Linked DNA regions of Homo sapiens: region 2 is reported to be linked to region 1. Evidence: microRNA targets listed by miRTarBase, many of them from high-throughput screens and not tested one by one. Region 1 holds a microRNA gene; the other region holds the end of a gene's coding sequence.

What was found. The annotated mature microRNA hsa-miR-4315 reads CCGCUUUCUGAGCUGGAC and lies in region 1 at 988-1,005, opposite strand. An mRNA with a match to its seed (bases 2 to 7 or 8) in the 3' UTR can be bound and repressed. Matches are read on the target gene's strand: a 7mer-m8 pairs with bases 2 to 8, a 7mer-A1 pairs with bases 2 to 7 and ends in A, and an 8mer does both.
Region 2: the mRNA of CAPS2 is a reported target of hsa-miR-4315. The part of its 3' UTR that is shown has no 7-base or 8-base seed match.

The regions. Positions count from the first base shown.
Region 1 is chr17:45,474,421-45,477,837 of GRCh38, forward strand. It overlaps MIR4315-1 (microRNA 4315-1), which reads right to left and starts at 1,015; the gene lies at 943-1,015. PLEKHM1 (pleckstrin homology and RUN domain containing M1) reads right to left here. Exons shown (of 12, transcript NM_014798.3): 4 at 680-1,306.
Region 2 is chr12:75,276,323-75,279,739 of GRCh38, reverse strand. It overlaps CAPS2 (calcyphosine 2), which reads left to right. Exons shown (of 17, transcript NM_001355024.4): 17 at 675-3,417. The coding sequence ends at 850. All of the region lies in intron 2 of CAPS2-AS1 (CAPS2 antisense RNA 1), which reads right to left. Among named protein-coding and RNA genes, the nearest start is that of CAPS2-AS1, 20 kb to the right of the region's middle.

The sequences.
Region 1 (3,417 bases):
ATCTGCCCCACATACTCTTCCACACATCTGTCTGTCCCCACCTGTCCACCACCTCCTGCATGCAGCACTCAGGTCCTGTGTCCCCCAGGAGGTATTCTGTGAAGTCACACTCTTATGCGTTATGTTTCATCTATTTGTTGGACGTTTTAAATGTACTCTGACCTATTAGTTTCCTTCCTTCTAGATGAAGACAACAATATTTTACACTGTGCCTTGTAGAGACTAAGTATCTTGTTTTTTTGTTGTTATTGTTTGTTTTCAGTTTTTGTTTTATTTATTTATTTATTTTTAATTTAGAGGCAGGATCTTGCTACATTGCCCAGGCTGGCCTCGAACTGCTGGGCTCAAGCAATCCTCCTGTATCAGCCTCCCAAGTGCTGGGATTTCAGGCATGAGCCACCGCACCCGGCCAAGTAACTTGCTAAAAGTCACCGGGGCAGAGCTGGAGCCCAAACCAGCTCTAAGCTGTTCTAAGTCCACTTTCTCCACTATGCCTGTATTGCCTGCTACAGTTCCCAGCTACTCCAGTCCCTGGAGAAGTCGATGACTCCCTTGGCTTTCTTTAATTACTAATAGAGTTCAGTAACAGACAATCACATGCTATGGGAAGAAAGGGAGGAGGAGAGGAAAGAAAGGAGGGAAGAGAGAAGATGGGAAGGAGTGGGGGCAGCGTACTCACTCTTGCAGAGACCGGTCTGAGTCCTCAGCATTTGCTGTGCCCAGGTCTGAGTCACAGGACATGGGCTCCTCGCAATGGTCTGGACTCTTGGAGCCATTCTCTTGGAGTAAGCAGCTATCAGAGTTTAGGCTGCAGGACAGCTGGGATGAACTGGCCGTGTCCAGGCTGAGGGAGGAGGCAGTCAGCTTCTGGTTCCTCCGTATCTTATGGCCCGAGTGATGGACTTCGATGTCTTCAGAGCCTGAAGAATGGGAAATGGAATCCAGAGATTCCTTCCGCTGTAGTTCTGCACCAGAGGTAGAGAGAGGGTCCAGCTCAGAAAGCGGGCAAAGCCCAGACAGGGCCAATGGGGTGAGCGTCCACTCATTTAAGATGGCAGACTTGTAGGAGAGTTCGAAGGACAAGGACGTGAGGCCCTGCAGGAAGCTAAGGAGGAACTCGCCCTCCTCAGCATCCCGGAGCAGGGCGGTGGGCTGGTAGTACTCATGCAAGCGGGCCTGCTCCTGCAGCAGCAGCTTCAGGTAGCACTCCATCAGGCCATCGTTCAGGGCCAGCCGCAGCCATGCCCGGCAGCGGCCCACATCCGTGTTGACAAACGTCAGGTGCTCCAACTCTGAGATGATGTGTCTGGGAAGGGAGAACAGACGTGTTTCAAGAAACTACCCCAAATCACAGAGATGTGCTTTTATCCACTGGTTAGCAGGAACCAGGAATAACTACTGCAAATAGATACAGGCATGAAAAAATATTGGGTAATAGTGTTTTAGGCCAGATGTGGTGGCTCACACCTGTAATCCCAGCACTTTGGGAGGCCAAGGCAGGTGGATCACTTGAGCTCAGGAATTCGTGACCAGCCTGGGCAACAGGACGAAACTCTGTCTCTACAACAACAACATAGCCAGATGTGGTGGCTTGCACGTGTAGTCCCAGCTACCCAGCTACTCGGGAGGTTGAGGTGGAAGGATAGCTTGAGCCTGGGAAGCAAAGGTCACAGTGAGCGGAGATTGGACCACTGCACTCCAGCCTAGGCAATATATATATATATATTTATATTTATATATAATAAATATATAAATATAAATTATATATATTTATACATTATATATATATATATATTTTGAGATTGGAATTGTGAAAGATAATTTCCATGTTCATTCCAACTACCACGGGGCCCCTGACACATCTGCTCATCTAAGGCATGCTGTCAGAGCTCCTTAAGTGCAAAGTCCTTGGAGCAATGAAGATGCAGGGTAAAGACATGGTCCCTGCCCTCAGGCACAAGGGACTGATGGAAAAAGGCATAAAGTGTAGGAAATCAACAACCCTGTAAGAGGATTGGGGAGCGCTCCAATTACAGCATGTGGCGGAAAAGTGGGTGGTTTGGTTGCAAGGCCAGGAAAGAGAGGGTCTTAAATATCAAATCAATAAGGCAACACGGGGTAATGGCCCCACACCCAGCTGTGCACCAGAACCCCCTGGGGAACTTGAGCAGGATACAAGTTCTGGGACCCCAACCTAGTGAATCAGTCTCCAGGCTAGCATCTGGGAGCCTGTAGGCTACAGATTTTTGTTTAGAAAAGTGACTTGACCACAGTCATGCAGACTGCAGGGTAGATGTTCTGCATAAGGAGATCAGACCCCAGGTGTACCAAACTCAGTCCCAGAATGCCTCCGTCTGATGTACATGCCCCTCTGAGCTACCACAGTCCCTAGCGCAGGTTTATCTCCTCCATGGGAATGTAGACCGCACTCTACTAGGCTCAGTGAGTAAGCTCCAGGGAGCTTCAGCTCAGTAAATGTTGACCAGATGATGGACTCAAGGAAAGACAGAGTGAGATAAGGGGGACAAATAGAAAGCCAGTGTCACCCAGGAAAGAAGAACGTGAGACAAGGCAGTGGCAATCTGCATGGAAAGGAAGATTAGAGACTGACAAGGCTTCTTTTGGGCTGAAGGTGGCATTTAGTAGTCCTCAGAGGCACAGTGCCAGCTACTTGCTCAAAAGCCCAGACAGTTAGGGGCCAAAGAGATAAGTGTCTCAGGGTGAATATTCATATGCTTTTCCTGATTCCACTCTTTATATAATCCCAGCACTTTGGGAGGCGGAGGTAGGCAGATCACAAGGTCAGGAGTTTGAGAGCAGCCTGACCAACATAGCAAAACCCCTCTCTACTAAAAATACAAAAATTAGCTGGGCGTGATGGTGCGCGCCTGTTGTCCCAGTTACTCAGGAGGCTGAGGCAGGAGAATTGCTTGAACCTGGGAAGCAGAGGTGCCAGTGAACCGAGATCGCGCCATTGCACTCCAGCCTGAGTGACAGAGCGAAACTCCATCCCAAAAAAAAAAAAAAAGATTTACAATTCGGATGTTTGAATAATCTAAGGCAGGGTCAGCAAATCCAAGGCAGGGTCAGCCCTTCTGTAAAGGGCCAGATAGTATATTCTTCAGGCTTTGCAGGCCACACAACCTCTGTTGTAACTATGTAACTCTGCCCCAGTGTGGCAAAAAAGGCTGTTCCTGCTAAAGGTGGCCAGTCTCACCTGCTTTTTGTGACCAGTCTCAAAGCAGCCACAGGCTCTTGCCTGAGTGCTGAGGGTCTCAAGATCTGCTGGCACACTGGCTGGGAAGCTTGGTCTAGAGATAAGCCTTTCTAGAAGACACTTTCAACCCCTACCTCACCCTCTCTCTATGCTAGAACACAGGGCACCTCTGTTGGCTTCCTGAACAGCTGGGGAGGAAA
Region 2 (3,417 bases), not on the chromosome of region 1:
TTACATTCAACTTGTATTTTATAAAGTAATGACTTTTTCTCTATTTCTTGTGTATGTTTTTAAAAGAAAGCAAACTTCTTAATATTCAAAGTAGATTTCATTCCTTTAGTTTGAAAGACCCTTTGCAATGCATTATTGTCTAAGTCCATTAGAGAACCTCTGGTTTGAGGGAAAAAAAATTAACTCTCACCTTAATTTTGTCCACCCCATTAGACAAATGGTTTGAGTAGTATTCCCATCTAAGCCTGTTATTTAAAGCATAACCTGACTTTAAAACGTTTTAGAGGGTCACATAGAAATTTTTGACCCTTTTTCTACTATTATATATGGGCCTCTGTTTATTCTCTTTTCAGTGTTATCTGACCAGTCACTATAGCTTCCTTTCATCTTTCAATTCCTCTGTTCTTTTTAAAAATTTATGATCAAAAAAACTGTGTTCTGTGCTGGGATCCTGGAGATAGATCAGTGCAGGAGAGCAGGGGGCAGGGAAGGAGTGGCAAATCGAATGAGATGAAATAATTCCAGTTCATGTGTAAATAAATTGGCTGGTAGTTTGACAAAAGATTTCAAATTGTTGAAAGTATTTCATAAGATGATTAAGTATTCCTTTATCATCATCAGTCATTTCACTGAACTTTTCAGGAAACTGTTTCATACTCAGTACTATTTTATAGGCCATTCAACAGAGGAAGAAATCAAATCATCCTTTCTAGAAACATTAAAAGTTGCCTGCAGCAAGTCTGATGAAGTGTCATATGGTGAATTTGAAGATTACTATGAAGGTTTAAGTATAGGAATAGTAGATGATGAAGACTTTGTTAACATCTTACGTACTCCATGGGGGATTTAGTCTTTAATAATACATATGTCATCAACACTAAGCATTTTATTGGAGAGATGATATCAATGTAAAGGATGATCAAACACTGGAATATATTTTCCTAGGACTTCCTTTATTCTGGTTTCTTGTTTGTTTGTTTTGTTTTGTTTTGTTTTCTCAAAAATGTTGAATTTGGAAAGAGAACTATCCAGAAAGATAGATGTAGGGGTGTGTTAGTGTTTGTGCATGTGTATGCCTGTTCACATGTCCTTACATTTGTAAAGATATCTTTTTGGTTTATTACTTATCTTGCGTATATTTTAGAGGTCATTTTTTATTAACTTCAGTAGGAAAGTTACATCTGCATCAAACAATATGGCAACATCTATTTATTAACCAAGTTTCCTGTCCTTTCACATTGTTTTTTGCTACCTCTTCCTCAGAATATATTTGCCACCATGGTCAATTTGATAAATTAGAATTGGGCCCAAAGCCAGTGAGATAATTCAATGTGTTTTTAACACATGAAAATATTAAAGGATATGCAAGAGAAATTTTTCAAGCAGTGTGATTATAGATGTTTTCTGTATATAGAATATTTCAAATGATGGAGGTTTACCCCATGATGCTCATTTAAATACTGACTTGTCTTTTAAATCTGTCTTCTAAATTATGTACTGTTGTTGGTTAAATAGAGCACAATGTAGTTATTCTAATGCCCAGTTGTATTTGTTCTTTTATTCTGCTTTTTAACTGTAATCCTTTTTACCAGCATACGATTGTTATTGAGCAATATGAAAGGGAAATGTTCTTTATTAAAATCAATACATTATCTTATTAAACAAAGATCCTAAAAGTATATTGTTGCATATATGAATCCAAGGAATAGTTCAGTAATTATTGCCTAAAATGTGAAAGCATATTTTGTATCCTAAAATGAATGTATGATATTCTAAACATCTGTTTTAGTATAACAAACAATTGAAACATTTCCTTCTAAATATATGTTATTTAATAGTTACATGTATTATAATCATTCTTTCTAAATTCTTTGCTAGTCATTTCTTCCTGGGAATACAGAGAAAAGAGACAACTTTATGAGTTGTTTTCAACTTCATAATTTTAAATTTTCTATGTTAATATAACATAAATTAGAAAAAATAAGTGATTCAAAATGAAAATATTTACTTTGTAGAATATGACTTTAGACATATCACTGTATCCATCTATACTTGGCAGCAACATGAGAAGTGTGATACATGTGAACCCAACAAATTCAAAGTTGCACTTTTCAAGATGTGAGAAGGTACTAAAACTTAATACTAAAACATGAGAGGGAAAATATGTGTAAACCTCTAGTGCTATTTTCACTGGCTAAATTCTTTATTTCTTGATTTTTTTAAAAATTAGGTTATTAAAATTAAAACAATATGCTAGAAGACATTTTGGCAGAAATAAGTCTATAACACTATTTTTGTCACATATCTTTTTCTTGGAAAAATTTATCCAACTATAGACATCTTAAACCCTACAAATTGTTCTTGTTAAAAATGACTAATACTGGGGGTGCTCAATATGCATATAGTGTTTTTCATTGATAATTTTTATTTAGTTCTTAAGAAACCTGTTCTTAATGTTGGCATGTCACATTTTTCTGTTACTATAATCAGAAAATGTATAGTCTGTTATACTGTAAAAAAAAAAAAAAAGGGAAGCTACTTTTGGAATGTAACGTGTTAACATGACAGCATACTCTTAGTATTAATCTTAATCTTCCTAACATAAGCATTCACATGTGGTTATTTGTAGGAAATAGCTCTATTTATGAGATTTTTTTTGGTGTATTTTGTTAGAATTGGTGACACAGTAAATCATTCTGCTTTTGGATTTGCCTGACTGCCTGCATTCTTCTTTGATTTTGGTATAGTAAAATCTGTTATTTAGTGTTAAACTTAATAAAAGAGCATTTAAGAGAAGTGACATTTCAAACATCCACAACACAACTGACTTTTGAAATCCTATGCTTAATAGTCTTTGTAATTCTAAAAGACCTTTTGAAAATGTTAAAATATTAAATTATATGTTGTAATGCTGTTACATGAATTTTATAGTTATGTATATTTTATAGATCTCTATGTCTTTGTAAGTTACTTGCTTGTATGCTATATAATTGCTTTCTCAGTTAACCATACTGTTTATGGAATTGTATATACTGATTTTTCTGTTTTTATATTTTAAAAATAAAAGTTGAGAATTTTAAGGAAAAACATTTTATTAAAAAGACAAGGTATATTATATAGGAATTTTAAGCTAACTTTTAATGGAAAGGACATACATATTTGCATGATGGAGCAATCACATTATAGTTAAACATGTATGTCCCTGTTTTAAATTTTATAGTATATAAATATATGTGCTAATGAACCAGCGACTCTGCATAGAGGCAGTCACTTAGAGTAATTAATAATCTTGATACAGCTGTAGATCATATCTTATTTTACATATTACTTTTGACTTCCAGTTTAAGTTGTTTGTTATCAAGTATTTCAGGAGAGAATTGTGTACATTAGGCTATGTTTACTGCAGATTATGTAACA